Homo sapiens: one gene and its partners. The protein of the gene in region 4 interacts with the protein of the main gene of each other region in a biochemical or structural test. Each region holds a gene or a part of one and is shown on either strand. Other genes may lie near its edges. The genes, in order: CSNK2A2, TOPORS, NKX3-1 and TOP1.

Region 1 (8,404 bases), on a different chromosome or scaffold from region 4:
TTTGGGTAAAGGAAGGGTTCCACTGCGTAGTATTTGATTTGAGAAGGGCTGCATGGTGCATGAGGTTAAGAAAGAAATGACTATATTTGCCTTTAAACACTTCAGCTGATTCCAAGCACCCAACTTCAGAGGCTCAGTGAGAAGAAAGCACACTAATTAAAGAAAGCACATTAATTAAAGATACCACCACCTGCCAAATAATAGCATGTGCTGCAAGGAATGGGGCTAGGGAGAGTGTTTCACAAATGCAGAGCACCAGGCCACAAGGTTAAAGTCATGCACTAAAACAGTCAATCCCAAGAGGCAGGTGTCTGAGTGGCGCGACTCAGAAGCAAGTACATAAAAACGGAACACTCCCAACAGGACACCACTCTAGCCCCACTTCTGCCAAAGGAAAGTTTTCACATCAAGGTGTAACACACATCTTTGCAATTCAAGGTTTATCCCTCCCCTCTCCCCCAAAGAGACAGGAAATACAAGTTAAGGTCCTCATAGCAATGGTTTGTCTCCCACTTGGGAAGGCTGGTTATTGTCAACATTTTTATTTAAGAAAACAGGATTTAACATGGCATTTTTCTTCCCTCTAAGGGCAGCAGCACATAAATCATACATCAGTCATCCAGTGATACAAAGAGGTGGCCAATTGTGTCTGAAGTAGTCACTTGTAAAGGATCACAACCCAGGCAGTGTTGCTTTTCTGCAAACAGAAGGAAACAGAAGGCTCCATGGTCCTTGAAGATTATCCAAGTTTTCCACTAGTTGTCAAGATTTCTGTCCCAACCTCTTAGTCACCATTTACAGCAAGAAGAGCCAGCAAGTGAAAAACTGTTAATTTATTGATTCAAAGTTGTTTTTTTTCTTTTTAAAAAACAATCCCCAATACATGCAGTTCAGGGTTAAGTATCACATTTGTAGCACATTGTTGAGTCTCAAAACAAAAATATGCATCACCTGTATAATCCCATCACATCTTTTTCCAGCCTCTACAATACCTAGTTGGGGGTGTTTTCATTTATACATCCACATAGCTCAGAAGCATGTTATTAACGGTTGATCTGGCCCGATGCTTCTCCGCCACCTCCCCTGCCCTGGTCTCCACCTCGGGGTTATTTTTTTCTAAAGGCAGGATGTTACTCAGTCTTAATTTATTAAGATCACTGACAAACTTTGGCTTCTTGTGTGCTCATGTGGTCCCTGCTTTTGCTTTCGGAAGGGTTTATATTGAAACGACTGTGACTCTGATCGGTTATTATCCCCTCATTTTTTGTAGGAAATAAGTTTGCTTGTTTCTGTGGGTGCTCACACAGTAACACAGGTTCCTAAAGTAACCATTTAATCTGAACTGGTATTAAAGGAAACTGTTAACCAGGCTCTCTTAGATCTATTTCAGTTCATATAAAAAAACTCTTCCAATTGTTGCTTGTGTCTCAAAGTAGTTCTGCTTCCATCCTTATCAACAGAGCACCTGGGAGAACCTAAGTCATTTCCCTGAGTAGGCACAGACCACGAGCCCCGCGGCACCCAGCTCTCTCTGGGACTAAGCGCCTGACTCGAGAGCACCACCTTTCAGTCCACTGGGACCAATCCAGTGGGCAGCGCCCTCCCCAGGGTACATTCCAGAACATAAACTTGGTACCCTCTAATTTATCCCCTCAAGAAGTTAATTTCCTCCTCAAGAGCTACCTTTAGATGGATTTTCTTATTGGTCCCTTTTCTTTTAACAGCCCTTCCCCTAGCCACTCTCTTCAAGTCCCCAAGGATTACGAGTTTGTCTGTCTCCTCTAATCTATCAGTCTGAGAGCACCTTCCTCTCTGCAAGGGAACACATTTGCTTTAAACCTTGTGAGTGCTGACATGTTACAGAATGTCTGGGAGGAGGCCTGGCTGAGTGACTGGTGTTTAAGTGCCTCAATGAACGACATCAGCGCTTCTCTAGTTGGTGAGAAGGCCCAGGAAAGCTTGGTCTGCGTCATACACTCAATAGCTTCTCCTACCCAGCCACCTACCCTGCCTACAGGGATAGGATGAAAGCAAGGCCAGCTGACAGCATCCAGGGGAGAGTGAACTGCCACCACACCAGAGGTGCAAATGTGACTCAGCACTTCATGAGTTCTACTCTCACCATGGGATTTCTCAGCAGAAGCAAACCTTGCAGTCAGGCTCACTTGTAGCCAACAAATGATATAGCCATCTGGATTTGGCATAGGAACCTTTTGTTCTCACCATACCAGGTCTATGTTCTTGAACATAGGCAGTACCTGAGATGATAGTATAACACTACCCTGTTCCCCACATTTTTTGCTTTTCTTTAGGAAATAATTAAGTCCTTATCATAGGCACTTTTAACCTGTTTAAGATAATGAAGCAAACAAATGAAAAGTACTGAGATGAGTTTAAGAAAGAATATGCTAACTGAAAAGGATACTGGGTGCGTACATTTACCATGGTTTAGTCTAAATATTAGACACACAGACACACACACAGACACACACACAGACACACACACAGACACACACACAGACACACACACACCCCTTTTGGAACTCTCCAAGACCATCTCCGAATCTAGGTAAATAGTCTTAAAATTTCGGGGGAGCTAGGTTTGGAAACAAAAATGGTTTTTGGAGACAGGAAAAGAGATGGTCTGAAACTGGACTCACTTCAGTTTGGAAAGGAATAGCCTAGGTGCCAAGACCAGACCCAGGAAGGGGTGAGCATTTCAAGCCCAGTTATGGTCTAAGTCTAAGGCATGAAGAGAGGTAAAAGTCTAGGTGCTGGAAAAGCAAGCTGTGTGCTTCAAAGGAAGAATGCCTGTGTCAAAGCTGCAGTTACAAAACCCCAGGACAAGGCAGGCAGGCGGTGTCTGCACCTACATCACCGTCAGAGAGACAGGCAGAGGTCAATCACCTGACTATTCTCCTCCAGGTACTTTTATTACCTTTGGGGGACCCAAGGGAAAGGAATGGAGTTACCGCTTCACCAAGACCCTCCAGTAGGCACCTCTTGCCTGGTCCAGACAGGCAACTTAAAAAAAAAAAGGGAGGGCTGAGGAGTGGGGTGGGGTGATAAAGGAGATTGGAGGGGGAGCAGGAAAGACACGCAGTGGCACATCTCCCTGATGATAACCAATGCTTCAGGATTGCCTATAAGGGCATATTAGAAGGCTTTTGATAATCTCAAACACTGAGTTTTGCTGCCTGACATATCAATACAGGTTTAGCCAAAGAGCTCACATCTTGCTTTTGATTTTCAGGTAGAACAAATGTTTACATTAGTATACAGAATGTGCAATGCAAGCAGGCAGCATTGGTATGAGAACCTTAACTGAATGCATTCCTTGGCTTTGGGATCTTATTTATTTTTTACTCTATAAACTCAACTCTATAATAAGAGAAGAGTTTCATTTGTATTTTAAGTTCCCACAGACCAAACGACAAAAATAGAATCTACATTTAGAGTAGGATCTGCTACCAATACCAATAAGATTTTATTGGAATATGGAATGTAAACAAATGTTTCAAACAAACATCTAACCTTATAAAAATGTATGGCATTATTAAATAGTTAATAAAGAAATCTTAAAGGGTGATGTGGTAGACACCTCTAGTTCTAGCCTAGGTGTGTGAAGTCCCCACAGCTGTGGCATGGCCCTGCAGCTGGGGTGAGGGGACTGCCTACAAACCATGTTGCTCCTGAGTCCCCAAAATGAAATCAGCCCTATTTTTGTTTAAACAAACTCTAGCTTTCTCTGCTAACATGAAGGTTTGCAAAATGGATCCAACACTTGCTCCGGGAGCACCATTTTCTTCCCCAAGCCCCTTGTATATTCCTCTGAGTTGCTTGAGTTTCAGATGACCCTGCCCACACAACTCTAGTACCTGCATGCAAGACAGACTTATCTTTGCCATCACATAAATGTATCACATATCAGAACTTACAAATGCATATTACCCTGATTACAGTGGGAAACTGTGTCTCATGGGGATAAAAGGAGGTGGGAGAGAGATATTTTTTTCCATAAGTCTTTCCTGAAAAAATTCTAATGGGATGTTTTCCTCCCTCGCCTTGCCTGAAGACTGACTTTCCAGCTTTAGTTATGGTTGTGAACAAAAAGGTCTCTGTTTCAGAGAGGTGCATTAAAATAGGCGCACACATAGGGATGTGCTGGGAAATGGTGAAGTTCTCCTTACAAGGCTGCCAAAAAAAAAAAAAAAAAAAAAAAAGAAAAAGCAACAAAAAAATAGCAACAAGATTTTATGGTTAGGGAAATCAACAAAGGTTATAGTGAGCTCCAAGTTATGCACTTAGCATGGAACTTTTGATGATAACCATGGACCAGTTCATGGCATTGCAAGGTTTCGTGATCCCTCCTGACATCAAAGAGGACTCTTGTGAAAGTGACTGCAGTTTGCTCCCAAATGAATCCACTTGGAGGAAAACTGCGGGGATGAGGTACATTTCCTGGAGAGCTCATGTCATTAAAAAATACATAAAACGTGGATTTGTAAAGAGCTTAAAAAAAAAATACTGTCACTGTTTTAATATCTCCTTTTTGTAAATGAGGCTGGTGTGTCAGTATAGACTGCTGACATTTCGCTAAGACTTGAGCCTGAATTTCACCAAAGGAAACCCAGACCACAATGGAATAGATAGGAAGTCAGACATTCAGAGCTTGTTGACTGAATGGGTTAATTCAACAGTGGTGCCCTGTTAAACAAAGGTAAATGTACAACAACTCCGAGTCTCTATCTCCCATGCATTCCAAAGGCAGAGCTCCTTCAGATCCTGAACTAGGTGCATCCCCATGCTGCCACAGTGACAGCTCCCTGGAGACTAGCACTGGGGAGTTTCTTTCTTGCTTTTTGACAGACTTTTAGGTCTTTACTCTTCTGTGCATTTAGAAGGAATGATAAGAATTTCTTTTTATCACACTGTAGTTTTCCTTCAAGGTTTGTGTTTGGTTGGTTGGTTTTATTGGCAAGCATCAATGCCGCATTACCCGTCGCTTTCCAGTCTTCATCGTGCTGCCGTGAGACCACTGGAAAGCACAGCATTGTCTGCACAAGGCTGGGACTGCTCCTTCACCACAGGGTCTGCAAGAAAGCAGGAGGAAAGTCAGGCAATCAGGGTGGTGAGTGCTGAGAGAAGCCCATGGCAAACCCACCCTTTCAACGGAAAGAGAGACAGACTGATGGGCAAGCCAGGGTCAGGGGGGCAACAGGAGAGACGGAAATCACGGAATTCCAGCCATATAAAAACCAAACACTGAAAAATGATCAGGGAAATTGTTATTGCAGTCAACTCTTACCCTTCCTCGGAGTACAGACTCAATGCTAAGAGGCATAGAAACTCTAATTTCCCACTGTTCAAATTTCTACATTTATTTTCTTTCAATATTAATATCATCTCTAACCCCTAATTTCTTCAAAGCATGTAGAATAACAAGCACTTCAAAGGAAAGGTGAGTAAAAAGAGCCATCAGAAGACCTATCCATTTTAAGCAACCGTAGTTTGAAATTTTTTAAATTGAAGTATGACATATATTCAGAAAAGCAGAAAGATCATTAATGACATGTCATAAACATCAGTATTCCTAATTTGATCTAACTCGGGTAAAAACAGCTTTCTGTGCCAGACACTGGGGCGGGGACATCTGAGTTTCCTGGGGCTGAGGTCTAGAAGGCTGAAGGCTTTTCCATTTGCGGTCTCCCTTATGCATATGGGCCACAGGCTCAAGACTACAGCGACACATTCTTCAGGCAAGAATTTAGTTCATCTCCAGAGGAAATCAAAGGAGAGGGAAAGACAGCATGTTTGTTAAGCCAGAGACAACGACTTTAAGGGGTGAACGTTTCCCTCTTGATTCAGAAAGCGACTGAGGTAAGTCTCTCAACCTCCCTGCTCCCCAGGAAGGAGACTGATAATAGGAGGAAGTTTATTTGAAACACACGTTATCAGAGGAAAGAACCATACACATGCAGAAGAATAAGCAAACACGCAAAGTGAATCCACACACACTTCTAAGTGAGCAGTTCAGTCAAGATTTCAGTGAGGCCTCTCCACACTTACTTCCCTTTCCTCAAATTCCTTTCGTCCATCCATCTGTTCATCTCCTTCTTTCAAAACATACAATAGTTATCTTACTACTTTTAACTAATTACTAGTTTTCTGAGGGGAGAAATAATCTTCAATTAGGTTTCCACACAAATATATGTATGTTTAAAAAGAAATTTTAGAAACTTGCGATCTATTAACTCAGGGTAACAGGGAGTAGTCAAACAGCTTGAACTCCGGGGAGATACATTCAGTGAATAAGCAAACACCTTTGGTGATCAAGAAACGGATCTGCAAAGTTGTCTCAATCATCTACGATAAATGAGGCCAAATTCTAGGAATAATCCAATCCAAATACCCTAGAATTCTCCTGACTGGTCTCAAAGACAAAGAGTGGAAGATTTGTTCTCTTGACTGAATTACTCCCTGAACACAGTCCCTGGAGACTCACAGAAGTATGGGTGCTCCATGGCCTCTTTGGCAGTCAGTCTCTGTTGATGGTCGTATCGCAGAAGTTTGTCCAGAAGATCTAGGGCCTCAGGGCTGACAAGGTGTCTGTTCTCACTATGGATAAAGTTTTCCCAGCGTTTCCGTGAATGTCTGAGAAGAAAAATGAAGCATTAGTAACCAGAGACTAAATTCAACAAGAATCCTTATCTACTAGGGCTAAAGCCAACAAAATCTCAGAATAATGTACTGATTACAAGCTTGTTAAATCTCTAACTGGTGCCTGCCCTACGGCCCCATAGTTACAGCATAGCATCCTGAAACACAATGGTGCTCTGTGATTAGAAAAATACAACTAGGTAAAACTTCTATATCTCATTTAGAATATGTGGAACCTTTCTAGATTATTTTTTATGCTGTAGACTTTTAGTCAATTCTGGGTGGCATGCAGAAGAGTGGGCAATTTTTATTGGTCAGCAGATATATTTCCCAGGGCTAGCCTCAGAAACAGGGAGGTTCCATAAAATACTGTTTGAAAACTGTTAACAAAATGTTTACTTCTCAACATTATTGCAATGTACCTGAAAACTCAATGTGCTTTAAAATTTGCTATTGTATAGAAAATCCATTACAGAGAACAAGAAGAAATTGTAAGTCCACCTTGAAGAGATATGAAGTAAATAAAATAAAATATAATAAAAAACAAACTAAGTCTCTTATTCAAAGAATCATTGCTCTCCAAGTTTGGCCATTAAAAATAAGCTTTTGCTGTACCAGAAAACTTTTTTCTATAACATTATGATTTTTGTTTTACCTTTTCTATTAATAGGTTATCTCTCAGAGAAGTAAAATGATTAAAAGACATAAAGTCCAAATATCTCAATAAGTTAAAAGAAAATATGCATAGGAAAAAAGAGGGCTACTTCCATTTTACTATAATCAGAATGGGAAAAGAAAGTGATTTTGGCTAACCTTTCCACTTCTGAAACGGGGTAAGGTAAAGCACTCTCTCTCTCTCTCTTACTTACTGTCCCAGGATATCGTTGAAGTGTGGATCTAGGTCTATGTGATACTTCTTCAGATACCCATACAGTTCTTCTGTACCCAGAACCTTGGCAATGCGAACAAGCTGAAACACAAAACAAACTGACCAAATCACTGAGCACAGAACACACCATGAGCCCGTGAGGACACTGCACCAAGGAATCAGAAGACTTCCACACCACTAAACCTCTAGGAACGAGATACAAACCCAGGTCCAGGGCAGGCAGACAGACCCAAGGACAAGAAGTTCACATGAATGCAAATTTCCAAACGGCCTTTAAAATAATACAACTTACGATAATAATCTTCTAGAGGTGGACCAGTACAGGGCATCACAATCTAATGACTAAAATCTAGTTTTATTAGACAAGGAGGTGCCTGACTTCTTCACAGATTCACTTTGGAAGTTTGGCATAGATGGCATTATCTGCCTCTACTTCTGCGGACCTGGTAAACACAAAATTCTGTGCGATCTTTATCTTGAAGAAAAGCTCATATGCAGACACTGAGTGATACTTAGTGGCTCAAGGATAGTATTCTTATCTAAGGATGCTATTTTTTTGGCATTCACCCCCAAATAAATAAGAACCAGAAAGCATTTGCTCACCTGGTCATAGTTGTCCTGTCCATGGAAGAATGGTTCCCTTCGAAAGATCATGCTTGCTAACATACAGCCCAAACTCCACATGTCCAAGCTATAATCATACATCTGAGGCAATAAGGACAACGCATTAGCCAAGGGTATTAGAAATCCATTTTTCTGATATAAATTTCTTTTTTAGACGAGATTGGGCGTGTTCAGGGTGGTATGGCCATAGATAATTTATTTAAAAAAAATTTTTTTTAACTTCCTGGCTCC
Region 2 (3,947 bases), on a different chromosome or scaffold from region 4:
TTGGCTACCCAGATTGGATGTGAATGCTACAGACACAATAGAAATATCATAAAAATCATTAGTGCCAAGGATTTGGCAGCTGAATGAGGGGGGCTGAAGGACAGGGACGAATCAAGACTTGGCAATTTTTGGCTTGAACACCCAAAAGGATGATGTGCCATGTATTGTTTTCATTAAATGTTTAAGGGAAAACATGATGTGAAATTACTATGTGGAATAGTGTTGTTTTTAATACTTAAGAAAAATTACATTGTTAACTACAAAGTAATTTCAAACTTAATGTGTATTTCTTGATCAACTATAGTCTTCCCACAATTTCTCAATGTCTGAGCTTACTTAAAAATTGCCAACATCAATTTTAGATTCTTCTTAGACAATTTTCTACTGTCCTTAGAATAACGGATTCTAAACATGGCCTACCAAGACTGTTCCCACCCTGTCCTTTGTCTAATCCTGCTTTTAGTTCTTGGAATATGCTAGGCTCTTCATCTGCCTTTGGATCCTTTGCCAACAGCAATTCCTCCCCCGTTAATGCTGGCTTGCTTTCTGGATTCAACTATTACGTCCAATCATGATTAGATCCCCATTCACTTGTAAGGGAATTATACTTTCTCCTCAGAGAATGTATGATAGTTTATAATGTTATACTTACATAAATATTTGTCTTAACAGTCCATAAGCACCATCAAGGCAGGGAGCATAACTGCTTTGCTCTATTGATAAAACAGAACCGCCAGGTGCAGTGGCTCATGCCTGTAATCCCAGCACTTTGGGAGGCTGAGGCGGGCGGATCACGGTCAGGGGTTTGAGACCAGTCTGGCCAACATAGTGAAACCCCGCCTCTACTAAAAACACAAAAATTAACCGGACATGGTGGCGCGTGCCTGTAGTCCCAGCTACTCCGGAGGCTGAGGCAGGAGAATCGCTTGAACCCGGGAGGCAGAGGTTGTGGTGAAGTGAGATTGCACCACTGAACTCCAGCCTAGGCAACAGAGCCAGACTCCAACTCAAAAAAAAAAACAACAACAACAACAAAAAAAAAAACCCCAAAACTTAGTGCAGAACCTGCCACATAGTAGGCACTGCAATTTCTACTGAATAAAGAATGAATACAGTAGCAAGGCAAAGGCAAACTGAAGGCTGAATTAAGATTTAACTCAAGCTCCACTGTTCAGTGGCAATCCTACATCAGCATAGATGTAATTTTATCATCCCTAAAACAAGATAAAACATAACCACTTTATATGAAAGAACTACCAATGTAAAAGAAGTATGACAAGGGTTTTTCATGTTTATTTAGCAAGTTAAATGCTGTTTTTACTGATGATAGAAAGCAAATAAGATACTCCTCAAAATCAAAGAAAATAATTAAAACTATAAAGTATTTGTTCACCTGAAGTTCAGTATTTATGACATAATTATGCCCTTAGCTACTTTCAAGATTTTAACTTTACTAAAATAAACTTTAAAAAAAAATACTGCATAGGAAAATGTCTGATTCTTGTTTTAAAGTGTTACTGTTTTATTTTTTTTCTTTTGTTGAATACACATTTGTTTTACTGGCAGTCCAGATAAACAAGTATATAAAGGAAATAGTAAATTTTTATTTTGGCAGAAGATAAACTGTGCAGATTAAAATGCCTCAATTTAACCTGAAGAAATGGTTTTGAATCATATAAATTTTTAAGAAGAAAAATAAAGACTGTCCAAAGGGATTCTCCTAGCTTATAACACATTTCCAGAATAACTCTCAAAAAAAAAAAATTCAAAAATACTCATTGACTACCTTAAAAATATGTCAATACCGTATGGCTTTATGAAATAACTTCTAAAATTTATATAATTTTTCTTATTTAAAAAGGACCCCAAGTTTTAAATAAGCTGCTAGCAGTATCATTTTCTTCACTTAAAAGTGCATATCTTTGAGGGTGGGACATACATTTTGAACAAATAATGATTTTTACAAATTAACACCAAAAAAAAAATCATTTAAAATATTGTAAGGAGGAAGAGAGTTTTCACCAAATGTCATCTTTAAATAGACTGCAGTAGACGACATTCTTCCTTTTTCCTTTTTATAACATCATAATTCTCAATGAAATGCTTTGGCAGTTTTAAGACATATCACAGTCTCTACCAAGACATACTGACATTAATGATGTCCGTGGCGATGGCAATTGCCTTGATGGCTCAGTTTGAAGAGACACAATGTTACTGGGCTGGTTCTCCAAATCAGAAACAAAGGTGCTCTCTTCTCTTACATCGAGAGTTTGTTCAACTGAAGCTGCCAGAGGTGGAATATTATCTACAGTTTTGTTGGCATTATTCAAGTTGTTACTAAGTGTGGCAATATCACATTCCTTGTCCAGCACACCAAATTCAGCTTCTATTGTAACTACATCTTTAGTTTCAAATGGTTCCAAGGAAGGAGCCAAAAACTCATTTTGTAGAGGGTCTTGAGGACCACTATTGTCACATTCTGTATCCTCCTTTACTTCAGAATCCTTATCACTGTCACTGTCAATGGTAATTACAACTGGGGAACGTGAAGCATTATCTCCATGGTGTTTCTTATGCTTCTTCTTATGTTTCTTCTTTTTCTTTTTATGGTGTTTAGTTGTATCAGTAGCTTTTCCTTCATAAACTATCTCTACACTTAGGCTCCGGGTCTTCCTTTTTCTCCTTTTGTGTTTTGTCTCTCTGTCTGATGATCGGCTGTCTGAAAAGGTATCACTCTCATTTTTGTAGTTTCCATCCAATTTTGATGAAGATTTTTGGTAATGACTGTCCTTTGCTTTAGAAGCAAATTCACGAGATGGCTGAGCCACTTCGTTAGTACCCTCCAAATGCCGTGTTTTGTATTTTCGTTTCCCTCCAGGCTTTTCATTTCTCACCCGGTCAGTCCCGGTAGATGCAGTCCTTGATCTGTTACTAGACAGGCTCCTTGATCTGTGCCTTTCATAGTAGTAATACTTCCTCTCACTGTGATTATTTTTTTTCCTAGCATTTGTTCTTTCAGAAAAGGACTGAACTCTAAATTCTGGACTTGAAGACTGTCTAGAATAATGAGCTCTGGACAGAGTCCTCCTCCTGTAAGATGATTCGTACCCATCCCTGTCCTTGTTTCTACTGTAATAAGTATACTCCCATTTGTATCTGCTTCCATAATTATTTCTTAAATAATAACGATCTCTATTTCTGCTCCGTGATCTTCTTTTACCATGATCACTGCTACGAGACCTTGATCTGCTTGTGCTTTCACTACTTAGAGACAGAGTTTGGCTTCTTCTGGACCAACTGCTATCTCTAGTTCTTGATCTCTTTTTGTCTCTTCTCCCTCTAGGTCTGCTACTTTCCCTGCTTCTGGATCGTTTACTTTTCATTCTTTTCTTCCCATGATGCTTTCTATGATTCTTCTGATCATGCCCACTTCTACTCTGAGAACGTGAATCTGAACTTCTTGATCTTCCCCTCTTTCTGTGTCTATGGTTATATGGAGAATATACTCTGTCTCCTCTTACAGATGAGTTCAGGTTTCTGGGAGATGACAATGATGTAGATCGTTTCTCTTCCTTCTTTGATTTGATTCTTGTACTAGAATCACAATGACCTTTATTTATTTGTTCATCCTTTCCAAGGACAGAGTGTGGAGATGAGCATCTACTAACATCGCTATCACCAGAACTGTAAGATTGCTCCTGTTCTTGTGTCTTCACTGTCTCCATTTTCTCATAAGAACCTAAGTCCTCAGAATCAGAGGACAGTTCAACAAGTTCTGGGGTCCTCTCAGCTAGTGGTTTAACAAACCCAACAATGACACAATTATCTGAAGAATCATCACTGTCATTATTTAGGTCGTCATTGGTTTGTACTCCTTGTATCTGAGACGTGGCTCCTCCTGTGACAAGTTCTTCATCTGAACTGTCAGAAGTATTTAAAAGAGAAGA
Region 3 (8,870 bases), on a different chromosome or scaffold from region 4:
GTCTTACCATACCTGACTACAACAAACCCCAGATACATTTTCAAACACACATATAGGGGCCAATTCTATGGGCTCTGGTTGTACTTCCTACCCTGGAGGGTAGCAGTGGAGGCAGGTGGGGTGGGTGGAAGGATGGAGGGTGATGCAGTGGAGACATCCACGGGCCTAGAGGTTTAGGGACTCAACTTTGTTATAGTTCTTGTCATCTCTGTAAACTTAAGGCTCCTTCCTAGAAAAGCAAGACATTTTCTTAGATAATCCTGAGGTCCCTCCTAGCTCTTAGATGGTTTCTAAAACATGTAATAGAGCAATGTTAAAATGTTTATGTGTAATATGAATTTGGGAGGAAAAAAGGATACAAAATTATATTTATCTTACCATTGAAGATGGCCAAAGACCGGAAGAAAATACAGACACACACACAGACACACACACACACACACACACACACACACACACACACACAAACAGTTTTAATGAAGGGATGGGATCATGGGTCTAAAGAGATATTTATAACTTAAAAGGAAAAAAGGATCCAAAGTTCACATCTGCAGTCAAGTTCAAGCTGGTAGGGCCTCCTTCATCACTGCTGCTCTTTTACTAGTGCCCCTATATTAGTTTCTTAGTGCTGCTGTGGCAAATTACCATAAAGTTAGTGGCTTAAAACAATGCACATTTATTATGCTATGGTTCTGGAGATCAGAAGCCCACACTGGCTTATTGGGCTAATATCAAGGTGTCATCAGGGTTGTGTTCCTTCTGGTGGCTCTAGGAGAGAATCCACTTCTTTTCTTTCCCTGCTGCCTGCATCAGTTGGCTCCTGGCCTCCTTGCACCCTCAAAGCCAGCAAGGGCCAGTTGAGTCTTTCCCACAGTTGACTCTTTCTAGCCTTGCTTCAGTTGTCATATCTTGTCTGACTCTGATTCTCTGGCCTCATACTTGTACTGATAAAGACCCCTGTGACACAACAGGCCCATTTGGATAATCCAGAATAACCTTCCCATCTCAGGATCAGCGGACCAGCAAACCTAATTCCATCTGCAGCATTAACTTTCGCTGTCTATTTACATAGCATATTCACAGAATCTGGGGACTAGGGGTTGGTCATCGCTGGAAGGGGGCATTGTTCTGGGCTGCAGCCCCTGAGTGTCTCCAGATTGCCTTGCACATTTTCACCCGGTTTAAACTGCATAAACACAGCAAGGGGAGGAGGACGAGCCTTCCACTGTGATTTGCCTGGGGGTCCTTTGGCCCCTTATGGATAATTCCGCTAGCCAGTGAGATGTGTCATAACAACTGGAGCTGGACATTGAGCCAGCAAGCACTTATGGAGCGCCTTCTGTATGCCGAGAACTAAGCCAGACTTTAGAGATGGTACAAATATGAGGAGGATACAGTCCCTTCTCAGGGAGCTCATAGTCTCATAAAGAAGATGAGCCATCCACACCCCCAAATACAAAGCACAAGGGGAGAAAAGATGCAGTGAGGTGAGGCCGAGGACCACGAGCTGTGGCCCCACTCACAGGCCTGAGGAGGACGCGGTGGAGGAGGGCAGTCCAGGCTCAGCTCCAACTTGATATTTTTCATTTTTTAAAATTATCAATGAGTACAAGGAAATACACCCTGTTCCACTATCCTCCTGTCCCTCTCCCAACCTACTGTCTCCATCTCACTGAGCAGAGGTAACTACTCTATGGAAAAAAAGAATACATATGTATAAATCTTGTTCCTGATATATTCTGTATGTTAAAGTGTTCAAATGAAAAACATTATATAGGTAACTTATAGTGCTGTTTTATACAATGGGTTTCATCTATAACATGCTTTGCAGCTTGAACCAGTCTCTGACCAAATTGAAGATATGTTCCCAAGTCAATACATTGTGTATTTGTGCACTTCTAGGGCACATTGCCAAACACAGAATAGCTGTGTCAAAGGATATGCTCAGTTTTAATTTTGACAAATATTCCCAAGTTGTCATCCAAAAACAGTCATGCATCCTTAGGGACAAGAATATGTTCTGAGAGATGCAATGTTAGGCAATTTCATTGCTGTGCAAACATCATAGAGCTACTTACACAAACTTAGATGGATGTAGTCTACTACACACCTAGGCTACATGGTATGCCCTATTGCTCCTAGGCTACAGACATGTACAGCATGTTACTGTACTGAATACTGTAAGCAAAGGTAATACAATGGTAAGAATTTGTGCATGTAAACATATCTAAACATAAAAAGGTACAGTAAAAATACAGTATCATAACCTTATGGAACCACCGTCATATATGCTGTCTGTCACTGATCAAACGTCACGATGCAGTGCATGGCTGTATGAGAGCAGCTGTTCCTCCACACTCTCACTTACACTGGACATTATCCATTTTTTTTAACCTTTGTCAATCTGAAAGGTGGAAAAGGCTCGTCTCAATGTGATTTTGATTTGCATTCCTTCACTGATGAAGTGTAGTTAAAATATTTTTTTCACGTGCTCGTTTGTGTTTTACATCTTTGAGCTGTCTGGAATTTATTTTGTCATAAGAATAGGACTTTATCTTTTCCAAATGGCAGCACTTGTTATTAAATAATTCATACCCAACTCTCAATTTTAGAAATAAAAGGAGGCCATCTCAATCTAAACCTCACACTATATACAAAAATTAATTCTGAAGGAATCATGGATTGAAGAGTAAAGCATAAAACTTTTAGAAGATAACATAGGAGCAAATCTTCAGTATTAGGACTAAACAAAGAGTTCTTAGGCAGGACATCAAAATCACATTCTGTAAAATTCAAAAATTCATAAATTGATCTTCAATGAAATTAAAATCTTTTGTTCTGTTGAAGATCCTGTTAGAGGGATGGAAACACAAGCTACAGACTGGGAGATAATATTTGCAAATAACCTACCAAACAAAGACTTACAAACAGCAATATATAAAGAACTATCATAACTCAATGGTTAAAAAATAAAAGAAAGAAAAATTCAATTATAATATGAGCAAAAGGCTTGAACAGATATTTCACCAAAGAGGAAATATGGATGGCAAACAAGCACATGACAAGGTATTCAACATCTCTAGGCATTTGTGAAATGCAAATTAAAAATTTAAACCACAATAAGGCCCAGCACAGTGGCTCACACCTGTAGTCTCAGCACTTTGGGTGGTGGAGGCGGAAGGATTGTTTGAGCCCAGGGCTTTGAGACCAGCCTGGGCAACAGGGTGAAACCTTATCTTTACAAAAACTACAAAAATTAACTGGGCAGGGTGGCACACACCTGTAGTCCCAGCTATTCAGGAGGCTGAGGTGGGAGAATCTCCTGAGCCCAGGAGGTTGAAGTTGCAGTGAGCCATGATCTCTCCACTGCACTCCAGCCTGGGCAACAGAGCAAGACCCTATCTCTAAATAAATAAATAAATGACGTCTGTAGTCTAGTTAACTGTAATGTCCCAACGTAAATTTCCTGTTTTCTACATTGTCCTACAGTTGTATAGATGTCTTTGGAGGACACTGGAGGTATTATTTTTGCAACTTCCTGTGAATCTACAATGATTCAAAAGAAAACATTAAAGAATGTTCTAATATAAAGAGACTTTGAAAAGATGAGAGAAGAAAACCAGCTTTGCCAAAGTCTTTCCCGTTGCACAGGTAGTTTTCTTTGGCGGTCGCTTTATCAGCAATAACCTATTAACTTTCCTTCCTCCAGAGACACATGACATACCATCCTTTTGAAAAGTTGCCAGTTGAATAGAAGCCGTCTTAGACCAGGACAGACAAAAAAGTTGCATTAAAAAAATGGTTCTAAAAAACATCAGCCTACCCTTTTTCCAGATTACCAACTGTTACCATTTAACCCATCGGCTTTATGGCGTGGGATCTATCAATCTGCATCCTTGTTTCAGAACCATTTGATGTAAGTTTCATAAATCTTGTGCCTTTGCTCCTACTTACTTCAGTGTTTATTTCCTAAAAATATTCTCTTGTACACTGACAGTACAATGTGCAATTTCAGTAAATTTAACATTAATTCAATACTTCCATCATCGACCTGACACTGAGACTCATGCCTGTAGTCCTGGCACTTTGAGAGGCCAAGGCAGGAGGATCACTTGAATCCAGGAAATCGAGGCTGCAGTGAGTTATGATGGCATCACTGCACTCCAGCCTGGGCGGCAGAGGGAGACCCTGTCCGTAAAAAAAAGAAGAGAAAAGACAAGGAAAGAAAATACTTCCATCATCTCTGTTCCACTTTCGTCTGTTGTCACGGTACCGTCCAGTCCAGTCACAGTACCGGTTGGACCAATCTGGCTAACCCATTGTTTAGCCAATGGGTTACATGTTAACAGTTGGTAATCTGCAAAAAGAGTATGCTGATGTTCTTTTGAACTACTTTTTTAAATGCAGTTTTTGCATTTGTCCTGGCCTAAAACGCCTTCCATCCGTCTGGAAACTTTTCAAAAGGATGGTATGTCATGTGTCTGGGGAGGAAGGAAAGTTAACAGGTTATTGCGGATAAAGGAACCACCAAAGAAAACCACTTCTGCAACGGGAAAAGGCTTTGGCAAAGGTGTTTTCCTTCTTTCAGCCTGGGGTCTGGCTGCACCTACTTGTCATGCCTCTTTGAGGTCGTAGATATTGCAGATCTGAGTTTGCACCATCTCTCCCAGAGAGAGAGAGCACCCAGAACTCTCACGGTACCGCGCGGCTGCAGTGACTGCGTGCTCATCCCCTGTAATTGGCTCTGACGGTCCTGAAGAGCTAACTGGACTGTTTGTCTTGATCGTCCCATCCCCAGGAGCTTCTCTCTGTTGCGGGTGGGTTGGGGCAGAGGAGCCCCGCTTTGGGGTGCGCTCCTGGCCTGGGAAAACGGCTCAGGGCGGAGGGAGGAGAGCTGGAGAAGGAGAGGAAATTGGGGAAGGAGAGGGAATTGGGGAAGGAGAGGGAACTGGGGAAGGAATCCCCTAGGGAGGAGCGGAGCGGGGCAGTGCTCAGGGCTCGCAGATCGGCGGGGTCACCTGGGGCTCAGGGCGGCCAATCCGCGGCGCGGCCCGTCCCGCGGCCAATGGGAGGGCGGCGCGGCCCGCTCCCCTGGGCTATAAGCGAGCCGGGAGGCGGAAAGTGAAAGCGGTGCGGGCCGGGCGGGTGCATTCAGGCCAAGGCGGGGCCGCCGGGATGCTCAGGGTTCCGGAGCCGCGGCCCGGGGAGGCGAAAGCGGAGGGGGCCGCGCCGCCGACCCCGTCCAAGCCGCTCACGTCCTTCCTCATCCAGGACATCCTGCGGGACGGCGCGCAGCGGCAAGGCGGCCGCACGAGCAGCCAGAGACAGCGCGACCCGGAGCCGGAGCCAGAGCCAGAGCCAGAGGGAGGACGCAGCCGCGCCGGGGCGCAGAACGACCAGCTGAGCACCGGGCCCCGCGCCGCGCCGGAGGAGGCCGAGACGCTGGCAGAGACCGAGCCAGGTAAGCGGCGAGGCCGGGGAAGGGGGGCAGCCCAAGGCGGACCCCCAGAGCTCGGGGTGCAGGGACGCGGGGCTCCGCGGCGACAGGCAGAGGGACCTTCCCGCCTCCGCAGCCACGCGCGCGCCCCCGGAATGAACCCTGAGCCCCAGCGTCAGGGCGGCGCAGGATTCTGACACCGCAGGACTCGCCCGGCTCCGTGCCCTCCGCTCCCTGGGGCTCAGAAGCCGGCGCGACTGCAGCGCCACCGCCCTCCACCGTCCCAGGAGCGGATCCCGCCCCGCGCCACCCGCGATCGGCGCCAGCCCCCCGGTAGTTATGAGAACTAATAATAACTTATTAACAGTGACAAAGCAGGGGTTGACCAGCAAAGCCTCCGTGTGCTTCCCAATCCCGTGGGCAGTAAAGCGGTATATTCGGGGTTCCCTCCGGTGTCCAGGAGAGAGAGTCCACTTATTTTCTTTCCTGTCACTTCTGATGAGGCGACCGAACGCCTCGTTTAGCGAAGAGGGAATTAAAGCCCAGAATGAGCCTGCCTCTGCGTCTCCAGTGGCACAAGCCCTCTCTTGCCCACCTGGATCCTAACACCGGATGTCTTTTGGTCTGGCCTTCCCGGGTATCTTGTTCCACGGCATTTTCCCTGCCTCCCTCTCCCGCCTCTCCTCAGCACACAGATCCAGAATCCCCATATAATTCTACTAGACAGTAGGGAGAAAGTTCAACCACGAAACGTCTCTAACTTTGGGTTCTTGATGATTCTTAGCAAATGAATGCGTAATAAACATATTTACTCACTCTTCACTCCGGAGAGCTCCTTAGTCATGTGAAAAAAGTGAAATGTATCCACGATGACAGTGGGCTGTTTGTTCACTCACTAAAGAGATAAGGGTGGATTGAATTCTGTTCTCTTCCCTGCTAACATGTAACTTTTGTCTTCCCATCCCTCCTTCCCCACTCTCCTTTCCAGAAAGGCACTTGGGGTCTTATCTGTTGGACTCTGAAAACACTTCAGGCGCCCTTCCAAGGCTTCCCCAAACCCCTAAGCAGCCGCAGAAGCGCTCCCGAGCTGCCTTCTCCCACACTCAGGTGATCGAGTTGGAGAGGAAGTTCAGCCATCAGAAGTACCTGTCGGCCCCTGAACGGGCCCACCTGGCCAAGAACCTCAAGCTCACGGAGACCCAAGTGAAGATATGGTTCCAGAACAGACGCTATAAGACTAAGCGAAAGCAGCTCTCCTCGGAGCTGGGAGACTTGGAGAAGCACTCCTCTTTGCCGGCCCTGAAAGAGGAGGCCTTCTCCCGGGCCTCCCTGGTCTCCGTGTATAACAGCTATCCTTACTACCCATACCTGTACTGCGTGGGCAGCTGGAGCCCAGCTTTTTGGTAATGCCAGCTCAGGTGACAACCATTATGATCAAAAACTGCCTTCCCCAGGGTGTCTCTATGAAAAGCACAAGGGGCCAAGGTCAGGGAGCAAGAGGTGTGCACACCAAAGCTATTGGAGATTTGCGTGGAAATCTCAGATTCTTCACTGGTGAGACAATGAAACAACAGAGACAGTGAAAGTTTTAATACCTAAGTCATTCCTCCAGTGCATACTGTAGGTCATTTTTTTTGCTTCTGGCTACCTGTTTGAAGGGGAGAGAGGGAAAATCAAGTGGTATTTTCCAGCACTTTGTATGATTTTGGATGAGTTGTACACCCAAGGATTCTGTTCTGCAACTCCATCCTCCTGTGTCACTGAATATCAACTCTGAAAGAGCAAACCTAACAGGAGAAAGGACAACCAGGATGAGGATGTCACCAACTGAATTAAACTTAAGTCCAGAAGCCTCCTGTTGGCCTTGGAATATGGCCAAGGCTCTCTCTGTCCCTGTAAAAGAGAGGGGCAAATAGAGAGTCTCCAAGAGAACGCCCTCATGCTCAGCACATATTTGCATGGGAGGGGGAGATGGGTGGGAGGAGATGAAAATATCAGCTTTTCTTATTCCTTTTTATTCCTTTTAAAATGGTATGCCAACTTAAGTATTTACAGGGTGGCCCAAATAGAACAAGATGCACTCGCTGTGATTTTAAGACAAGCTGTATAAACAGAACTCCACTGCAAGAGGGGGGGCCGGGCCAGGAGAATCTCCGCTTGTCCAAGACAGGGGCCTAAGGAGGGTCTCCACACTGCTGCTAGGGGCTGTTGCATTTTTTTATTAGTAGAAAGTGGAAAGGCCTCTTCTCAACTTTTTTCCCTTGGGCTGGAGAATTTAGAATCAGAAGTTTCCTGGAGTTTTCAGGCTATCATATATACTGTATCCTGAAAGGCAACATAATTCTTCCTTCCCTCCTTTTAAAATTTTGTGTTCCTTTTTGCAGCAATTACTCACTAAAGGGCTTCATTTTAGTCCAGATTTTTAGTCTGGCTGCACCTAACTTATGCCTCGCTTATTTAGCCCGAGATCTGGTCTTTTTTTTTTTTTTTTTTTTTTTTTTTCCGTCTCCCCAAAGCTTTATCTGTCTTGACTTTTTAAAAAAGTTTGGGGGCAGATTCTGAATTGGCTAAAAGACATGCATTTTTAAAACTAGCAACTCTTATTTCTTTCCTTTAAAAATACATAGCATTAAATCCCAAATCCTATTTAAAGACCTGACAGCTTGAGAAGGTCACTACTGCATTTATAGGACCTTCTGGTGGTTCTGCTGTTACGTTTGAAGTCTGACAATCCTTGAGAATCTTTGCATGCAGAGGAGGTAAGAGGTATTGGATTTTCACAGAGGAAGAACACAGCGCAGAATGAAGGGCCAGGCTTACTGAGCTGTCCAGTGGAGGGCTCATGGGTGGGACATGGAAAAGAAGGCAGCCTAGGCCCTGGGGAGCCCAGTCCACTGAGCAAGCAAGGGACTGAGTGAGCCTTTTGCAGGAAAAGGCTAAGAAAAAGGAAAACCATTCTAAAACACAACAAGAAACTGTCCAAATGCTTTGGGAACTGTGTTTATTGCCTATAATGGGTCCCCAAAATGGGTAACCTAGACTTCAGAGAGAATGAGCAGAGAGCAAAGGAGAAATCTGGCTGTCCTTCCATTTTCATTCTGTTATCTCAGGTGAGCTGGTAGAGGGGAGACATTAGAAAAAAATGAAACAACAAAACAATTACTAATGAGGTACGCTGAGGCCTGGGAGTCTCTTGACTCCACTACTTAATTCCGTTTAGTGAGAAACCTTTCAATTTTCTTTTATTAGAAGGGCCAGCTTACTGTTGGTGGCAAAATTGCCAACATAAGTTAATAGAAAGTTGGCCAATTTCACCCCATTTTCTGTGGTTTGGGCTCCACATTGCAATGTTCAATGCCACGTGCTGCTGACACCGACCGGAGTACTAGCCAGCACAAAAGGCAGGGTAGCCTGAATTGCTTTCTGCTCTTTA
Region 4 (9,010 bases):
CAGTTAGTTCTACCAATACTTAGGAAGTCTTTTCACTTAGACTTAGATATGGTTTCTGCTCCAAATTCCTAACTCACTGTCAACATTTTAAATATAAATAACAGAGTCTCCCAGCAGTTGAGTATGGGTCAGAATGTTCTAAATTACATGCAAAGAGCTACAATTTTAAATATTGCGAAGAATGAGCTCCAAAGTGGGGGGACGGGGGGGAATCTTTTATATCTTAGGGGATGAGGGCAGGCAAAATGAGAGACGTTTGATTTTAATATATGAACTTGTACAGTTAATCTGTAAGATGGGTTAGGCCCTCTTAAAATCACGCTTAAACAATCTCTTAATACAAAGTTCAATAATGACATGTCTGGGCATAATTAAACATTGATTTCTACTTTTTTTAAAGTTTTTTTCATAGTTACATAAATCAATCACTGGTTAACAATGTATTACTTGAGATAGCAAGCATAGTTACCAACACCACATCTTCCAGACAATATTCACAAAGAATAATTACACCAATGTCAGAACTTTATGGTGGCAGATTCTCTTCAAAAAGCATGTTTAGATAAAAAGCAAATGACAAATTATCAAATCCTTCCTTCTCTCCTTTTTCAGCTCTGTAAGAAAATAGAGATTTGTGGCTTTTTATTTTTTCATGCTAGTATCATATAGTATCACTCTAGCATAGTGGCTCAGCTCATGGGATTTAGAGTGGCCAACTCACAGCCCTTGGGCAAGCTAGTAAATACACTGAAGCCTCAGTTTCCTCATCTACAAAACAGAAATAACAGGACCTAACTCACAAGGGTCCTTCCAAGGATTACATTTAATTAGATGATCCATGGAAAGAGCTGAGATTCATGCCTGGCAGTAAGTATTCAATAAATATTAGCTATTATTGCTATTAAATGTGAGCCAACACATTCTAAAAGTCAACATACGCAGATTACTTCAGCCTCTATAAAAATGTCAGTAAAGATCAATAACCTAGCCAGCTCACAATCATTCACGTGACTTAGGTGAGAACCATGTAAGTTAACTTTCTCACAAGAAAGGGCTAAACTTTGTTTCATTACTTACATTACCTACTCAGCCCAGCCTGACAGCCAAAAGAACACATTCCATATTAAAGATCCCACCTTCCTCTAGCAAGGTCAAAAGGACTTCTTACATCCTCACCTGCACATCCTTTCTTTGCTCCTGTATCCCAAAGAAACATGTCTATACTGTGGCTTTCTAAACTGCAGGCCTCACCTCCTCCCTCTTTTAAAATCGTGATAGGTTGGTTAAACGTACTTAAGAAACACTCCAACCCCTGACAATTCTCTGCGCCCAGTCTTCCACAACCCCCAGCTCAGAAGTCACCTCCTCTGAGAAATTTCCCCACCCTCAGACAAAATTAACTCCCCTATACTTCAAAGCATTTTGGGTACACATATGCCCCAGTAGTTACCTTATAATTAACTAATTATGTCTCCCCCAATAGACTGAATTGAGAGCAAGGGAGTGTTATGGTTACAGGATCAGCTCTAGCACCAAGCACAGTGGTTGGCACATATCTGGTGCTCAAGAAATGCCATACTTTAAACCAGATTCTCTCCTGGCTGAGTACCATCTCCTGCTGGATGCCCCACTTCAAACTCTGAACATAAGGTTGCTCTCAGTAGAGCAGGCTAACATGATGGACTGCTGATTACAACATTAGAAAACCTACTCATCAACTTCTCCCATTGGAGAGGTTCCCGGAACCCAAACTCAATTGAGCAGGATTATGTACCATCAAAATCAGTGGGAATTCCCAGCACACTACAGAAGGTAACTTCTCCTTCAACAGGGTTGTTCGAAAGCCTGCAAGGATGAGCTTTTTATTGGAGGACTCTTCCCTGGGTAACTGAAGTGGAAATACAGTAAGAATAAATGCCTTGATTTGGCTGAAAAGGGTTCAAAAACATAAAGAATTGGGAAAAAAAAAAAAAGCCAGTTCTTGATTCCTGAAAAACAGTGGCTCGTGAAAAAGAATGAACAGGAAGCAGGGGTGGGTACTGGACACTCTTTGCTTCAATAAATAAAATCTTTTTTTCCTCCTTACAACCCAAACGAAAAGGCCAACACACCAGGTCCACAAGAGATGCTCAACAATCTTTCCTTCCAACAAGTACACTAAACTGCGTTTCCAGAAAAACACTGCATTGGGAACCTCGACCACAATGAAAAGTTCCAGTGACTAACATAATTTTTTAAAAATCCAACATTTACATTGGGTGACCCACAGAGAACTTGCAAACTTTCTTTAGGGAGGTACTGCTACCTTTGCAAAGAACGTAACTTGGGAAAAACAACCTGGAAATATAAAGAACTCCACAAAGCGTGGCTTTAGTTTTAGAGCCATAATTCCTATCATAAACAGCCTATCAAAAAAAAAATTAACAGTTGCTTAAGGAAATCTTTCATTCTGGAAGCAGAAAAGGAAACAAACATGAAGCATAAAGGGAATAACCCCCAAAATAAAGTTTAAAAAATAATAATTCAGTCCCCCAGCCTTCCCTCTCTGGTGAAGTATGTGATTTATACGGCTTTGCTCTGCAGAAAGCTCATTCTGGGCAGCTCAAGGAAAGAGCCGAGGGAGGGAGAGAAAGAGACACAGGCACAGAAAGGAGAGGAGAGAGAAAAAGAAAATGGCGCAGAGACTAAGTCCCGACCGTCGACAAGGCGACTTTCCCGGGAGGAATCCCGGCCCGGAAAGACCGCCCGAGGCCCGGTGGCGGACGACACGGGGTCTCCGTTGTCCCCTCTTGGGAGGGCCGGGATCTGGAGGAGCTGGGGTCCCCGGAAAGGGGGTCAAGAGGCGGCCCGATGGGAACAATGGGGCCGGTGAGCGAGGAGCCGGGACTTAGTCTCTGGGACGCCATGTCTGTCCTCTGCCCGGCACCGGCAGGGCGCGGGGGAGGCGGCCGGCGGCTGGGGGGCCCCGGAGTCGGCGCAGGGGGCACACTCACCATTCAATCGGAAATCCGCTTCGATCTGGAAAAAGAAAAGGAGAGAATATCAAACAACAGCCACTTTAACCCCTCCGGCGGCGAGCGCGCGCGGCCGGGGTCTGGCTCACCCTGCGCCCCCGGGGAGGACGGGGACCCGGGGGTGGCCACAGAGGGCAGCCATCCCTGCCTCGAACTGTAACTTCGCGGCCCTCGCTCGCGGCCTAGCGAGCCGATCTACTCCGGCAGGCGGCCCCTCACCGGGGGCTCCGGCCTGTCAAAGCTGCCGGGCCGGGGCTGGGGTCGGGGCCTGCGCCGGGGGTCGCGGGACGGCCAGGCCGGGGTCCGGGGCCGCCAGGGTCAGGCCGGGCCGTACCTGGGAATCGTTGTGGAGGTGGTCCCCACTCATGTCGGCCCGGAGGGACGAGCGCGGCGGCAGGCGAGGCGGCGTGGGGGAGACGCAGACGGCGAACCGGCCTGTGCGGGCGGACGGGGACTCCGGAGGCTCGAGGAGGCGCAGGTAAGCGGCGGTGACTGTGGGCCCGAGACTCCAGAAACGGCTGAGGCTGCTACCACGGCGGCGACGCTGCCTGACTGCCGGGCGGGCGGCGAGAACAGACCCCAGCAGTTGTGTAACAGCCTAAGTTCGCATTTGGGCTCACTGCGCCTGCGCGGCCGCTTTTAAACAACACGTCGGCGACGTCAGCGCTCGCGGAAAGAGGCAGAGGGTTGCGGCCCGCCCCCTCGCTGTTCGCCAGACGGACCTGTCTTTGCATCGCAAGCCCCGCCTCCGGACCGTGCGCGCTCCGCTGTGATTTGCATAAGGAGCCGACTCCTCCCACGGCGTCCCACCCCAAGCAGCCTCCCCTTCCTCTCCAGACGCTTTTTCTCGGAACCCCAGCCCCTCTGCTAGGCAGTGCGCAGGCGCCACCCGGGCACCGCCTCCGGACCAGGGCTGGCCGCGCAGCCACGTGGTGGGCCTTTAAAGGCCGCGGCGGGACCCAGCAATCTTGGGCAGAGCTGGTATCCGGCGTCCGCATCTCCTTGGAGCGGCGAGTACCTTGGCAGCTGGGACCCCAGAGGTCTCCCCAGCGCCTCCTTTCTTGCTAAGCCGACCCTGAGGCCGCCTGGTGGGAGGAGTCCCCTCCCCAGCCTTTGTCCAGGCCCTCCAACTTCTGGATTATTTCACGCCCACTTTTTAAAAATTATTTTAATTTTTCAACCAACCAAGGGTCCGGTTTAACCCCAGTTTTCCGCCGAGTACATGTAGCCCTGGGTCACCAAGGGTCTGATTTCTTTGGTTCATTCTACAAATACTTATTGAGCATCCGCTATGAGCCCAGGAATTGTGCTGAGGGAAGGGGGAATGCAAGAGACCAAAGGGAACTGAACCTGTCTCTATCCGCCCCTGTATCCCTGGCATGCTGGGAGGACGGGGCAAATGGGGAATAGAACTACCGTTTATAGAGCATCTATTCTGTGCCCAGCTCTGAATTCTCACAATAGCTCTGTGAGGTCGCCTGTATTACAAAAGTCAAACTGTCCTAAAGACAAGGGACCAACAGCCAGCTACCTTGCATCTATAGTTGGATACCTCTCAAGCTTCTCTGGGAATGAACTGAACTCCACTCAGCTAGAAAAAGCCCCATCCTGACACCTTCCTTTCCCTCATTTCCCACTAGTCCCGCTGATTGCATCTCTTTGCTTCATCTACTTCTCTCTGCTGCCCATAAGCCTTTGAAGTCTGCGTTCTCCTGCTTGGATTAATACAATGTGCTGGCTGGGGGTGGTGTCTCACACTTGTAATCTTAGCACTTTGGGAGGCCGAGGCTGGCAGATCACTTGAACCCAGGAGTTCAAGACCAGCCTGGGCAACATGGCAGAACCCTGACTCTACAAAAAAATACAAAAACTGGCGGGGTGTGGTGGCATGTGCCTGTAGTCCCGGCTACTCGGGAGGCTGAGGTGGGAGGATCACCTGAGCCCGAGGAGGAGGTCGAGGCTGCACTGCACTCCAGCCTGGGCAACAGAGTGAGACCTGGTTTAAAAAAAACAAAAAACAAACCAACAAAAAACACCGCACTCCAAAACACTACACTTCTAACAGGGATTGCTGCTTCCATTCTTGGCCCTCTCGTAAACTGCATTCCAACAATTGCCAAAGTGATCTTCTCAATATGCTAATCTAACCATTACTCCTTTGTGGATATTGCCACATCTATTACCACTTTCACTATTATTATTTCATATTTTAATTGATCTCCTTTTTATTTACCTTCATCCTAAGTGTTATCTGTGAAATAATATCTATGAAATCATTTGGAAGTAAATATGAAAACTGTTCATCCAGTGGACCATCAGTATCTTTATCACATCTAATGTTTACCATCACATGTTTACCATTAGATGTGTTTACCACATCTTGTGAATGCTTCAAGATCAACCTAAATATCACTTTTTCAAAGTGACTCTCCGGCGCACTACTGACCCTGCTTCCACTGGCTGACCAAGGGTGCCTTATAGGCCAGGCGCGGTGGCTAACGCCTGTAATCACAGCACTTTGGGAGGTCAATGTGGATCAATCACTTGAGGTCAGGAGTTCAACAACAGCCTGGCCAACATGGTGAAACCCTGTCTCTACTAAAAATACAAAAATTAGCAGAGTGTGGTGGTTCACACCTGTAATCCCAGCTACTCGGGAGGCTGAGGCAGGAGAATCGCTTGAACCTGGGAGGCAGAGGTTGCAGTGAGCCGAGACCGCACCACTGTACCCCAGCCTGGGCAACAGAGCGAGTGAGTCTCAAAAAATAAATAAACAAATAAAAATAAAAGGTGCCTTATAGTATCTATCTCCTTTGTAACACTTATGACACTTGTTATTAAGTTACAAATGTAGTAATTGGTTTCCTGTCTATTTCCCCTATAGCAAGCAAGGTCTGTGAGAGGGGGGAATCTTGTCCATCTTGCCTACCACTGAATTCCCAGCACCCAGCAACAGGCCCTCCTACAGAAGAGGTGCTCAAGAAATGGGCAAATCAAAGCAGGTTACCCTGCTTTGGTTAGGAGCACACATTTGGAAGTCAAATCAACTTAGGTTTGAATTCTGCTCTGCTGTTTGTTACCTGTGTGATATCAGGCAAGTTGTTTAACTTCTCTGAGTCCCTGTTTCCTCATCCACTCCATGGTGATCATTGTGGGTATGTAATGACTATCAAAAAATAATGGTTTGAGGGCAGGCACCTAGTAAGTGCTGAGTCTTGGATTCATACTCAGGTCGGCCTGACTCCAAAGCTATACTCTTTCTCTGAAGCAAGCTGCCAGAGCCAGTTTTGCCTTGCTGTTGGTGTCTCTTCTCATACTCTTCCCATCTCAGGATCAATCCCTGGCCAGAAGATGAGGCATCTGCTTGCTGCAGTGAGTCCAAGATAATTTGAGGACGGCCTTCAGGAATAACAATGCATCCACACTACTCCACTCTCCCAACCCCCCGTTTCCCAGGGAGAATCTGCATTTGCTTTTTTTTCTTTTTTTTTTTTTTTTTGAGATGGAGTCTCTGTCACCCAGGCTGGAGTGCAGTGGTGCCATCTGGGCTTACTGCAACCTCCGCCTCCTGGGTTCAAGCAATTATCCTGCCTCAGCCTCCCGGGTAGCTGGGATTACAGCCACGTACCACCACACCCAGCTAATTTTTGCAATTTTAGTAGAGACAAGGTTTCACTATGTTGGTCAGGCTGGTCTCAAACTCCTGACCTCGTGATCTGCCCACCTTTGCCTCCCAAAGTGCTGGGATTACAGGCATGAGCCACTGTACCCAGCCTGCATTTGCTTTCCAGGCCCCTCCAAAGAAGACTAGGTAGGCATGAAAACAGCACAGACTTCACAATGGCAGACCGAGGACATCCCCGTGCACAGACATGGAAATATCCGGGCAGTCTTGTCACAGGCTGAACTTCTCTGCCAGCATGTGTGGCTGGCAGTGCTCAGAGGTTGACTGACTTACTCTGTCTTACAGAGACCACTCCTGACTCCTAACACTTCAAACACATGTCCCCACCATATGGTACTTGAGGAGATTATTGATAGTGCATGGACAAGCATTTTAATTCTAATAGATATGTATTTCGATGTGTATGAGAAAAAATAACCATTGTTTTAAGGATATAACTGGGATGAGGCTTTTTAAAAAAGTGATTGATTTACATAAAAACATATAGGAATAGTGCACAGAGCGGACATATAAGACAAACTCCAGGAAGGCTATAGGCAAATAAATGAGGTTTGGGAAACACTGCTTTAAATCAAGACTGTTCACTCATGGACCATCCCAACCCTTATAAAAATAACTAGCAGGTGAAAACTGGTAGTGTAGGTCTGTCTCCAAAGTATGCATTGGGAACAGTGGACGGTTTATAGATAATCCACTAAAAGAAGAGCTCCACATACAAATACATACATTATTATATTTACAGTTAAACAGGTTTTTTCCCAGGTGCCTTCTCAGGGTCTTCCATATGTAAATACTTACGTGACTCTTGAAAAGAGGGACATGGTGTGCAGCATCTCCAAAATGTAGGCAAACCCGGCCAGGAGCGGTGGCTCATGCCTGTAGTGCCAGCACTTTGGGAGGCCGAGGGCGGGGGTGGATCACCTGAGGTCAGGAGTTCGAGACCAGCCTGGTCAACATGGTGAAAACTCGTCTCTACTAAAATTACAAAAATTAGGCCGGGCGCAGTGGCTCACGCCTGTAATCTTAGCACTTCGGGAGGCCAAGGCAGGCAGATCACCTGAGGTCAGGACTTTGAGACCTGCCTGGCCAACATGGTGAAACCCTGTCTCTACTAAAAATAGAAAAATTAGCTGAGCATGGTTGGCACACACCTGTAATCCCAGCTACTTGGGAGACTGAGGCAGGAGAACTGCTTGAATCCTGGAGGCAGAGGTTACAGTGAGCCAAGATGGCGCCACTGCACTCCAGCCTGGGTGACAGAGCGAGACTCCATCTTGGAAAAAAAAATGTAGGTAAATCCAAAAACACTTTTTTCCAGACTACCTCTTGAGACTTGGGCTTTTTGGGGGTGGTAGAGAGGGTGCACCATTCCTGGAGGTACTGCAATCCAGGCCAATGTGTAGAGTGGACAGAGCAAGCTCCTATTCCATCTCCTTGCTCCAAAAATCTATTTATTATATTATCCTCAGATAGAGGATGTATCAGATATTAAACTGGTAAGAACAGATACTGCACATGATCTTAGCCAGAAGGCCAAGAAGCAATGAGACTTGAGCTTTTTGAAATGACTGAACCTCAAGACTCTTGATCTAGGTTGTCACCCAAGATCTAGTTCTTATTCATCTGATTCCGACTCTCTTAGGCTAGTTATCAACCTGGCCCAACTCTTGTCTCCCAGAACTGAACACCTCTAGCGTTGTCTAAACAACTCTTGCTTTTCAGGGACCCATCCATCTGCACACTTTCCCCGGACTGCAAGATTATGGAGGAACAAGATACACAAATACACAGATGTGCTGCTACAGTTGTTTGGACCAGGATGGGCACTTGATCCAAGCTGAGCCACTCAGGTTAACTTCCTTAAGGTTCTAGAATTCAGAAGAAAAGAGTGGTTCCATCTGTCTTCTTGTGGATAGATCTGTAGTATGTAGATTAGGGAGCTGCTCCTGGCGATACTTGCTGTTGGAAGGGCCAGAGAAACCTGGAAGTGGGGGAGGATATAGGAGAAAGTGGGTGGAGGAAGAGAAGAGATAAGAGATAGAAGTCCCTCCCGCCAGATGGCTCACACCTGTAAGCCTAACACTTTGGGAGCCTGAGGCGGCTGGATCATTTGAGCCTAGGAGTTTGAAGTCAGCCTATGCAACATGGCAAAATGCTGTCTCTACAAACAAAAATTAGCTGGGCATAGTGGTGTGTGCCTGCAGTCTCAGCTACTAGGGAGGCTGAGGTGAGGAACACCTGAGAGGCTGAGGCAGCAATGAGCCAAGATCGTGCCACTGCACTCCAGCCTGGGTGACAGAGTGTCACCTTG

The links.
Region 1: of the proteins of TOP1 (region 4) and CSNK2A2, one has a biochemical effect on the other in vitro, tested with the Homo sapiens proteins (one study listed by BioGRID).
Region 2: of the proteins of TOP1 (region 4) and TOPORS, one has a biochemical effect on the other in vitro, tested with the Homo sapiens proteins (2 studies listed by BioGRID).
Region 3: the proteins of TOP1 (region 4) and NKX3-1 form a complex in vitro, tested with the Homo sapiens proteins (2 studies listed by BioGRID and IntAct).

The regions. Positions count from the first base shown.
Region 1 is NC_000016.10:58,159,055-58,167,458, forward strand, and holds part of CSNK2A2 (casein kinase II subunit alpha'), read right to left. Parts: intron 8,255-8,404; coding exon 8,153-8,254; intron 7,631-8,152; coding exon 7,530-7,630; intron 6,655-7,529; coding exon 6,506-6,654; intron 5,094-6,505; coding exon 5,017-5,093; 3' UTR 5,000-5,016; exon of another isoform or gene 1-4,999.
Region 2 is NC_000009.12:32,539,273-32,543,219, forward strand, and holds the end of TOPORS (E3 ubiquitin-protein ligase Topors), read right to left. Parts: coding exon 2,115-3,947; 3' UTR 1,272-2,114; downstream 1-1,271. UniProt on the Homo sapiens protein: Functions as an E3 ubiquitin-protein ligase and as an E3 SUMO1-protein ligase. Probable tumor suppressor involved in cell growth, cell proliferation and apoptosis that regulates p53/TP53 stability through ubiquitin-dependent degradation.
Region 3 is NC_000008.11:23,679,195-23,688,064, reverse strand, and holds the start of NKX3-1 (homeobox protein Nkx-3.1), read left to right. Parts: upstream 1-5,126; 5' UTR 5,127-5,175; coding exon 5,176-5,461; intron 5,462-6,425; coding exon 6,426-6,844; 3' UTR 6,845-8,870.
Region 4 is NC_000020.11:41,023,439-41,032,448, reverse strand, and holds the start of TOP1 (DNA topoisomerase 1), read right to left. Parts: upstream 3,628-9,010; 5' UTR 3,382-3,627; coding exon 3,349-3,381; intron 3,019-3,348; coding exon 2,994-3,018; intron 1-2,993. UniProt on the Homo sapiens protein: Releases the supercoiling and torsional tension of DNA introduced during the DNA replication and transcription by transiently cleaving and rejoining one strand of the DNA duplex.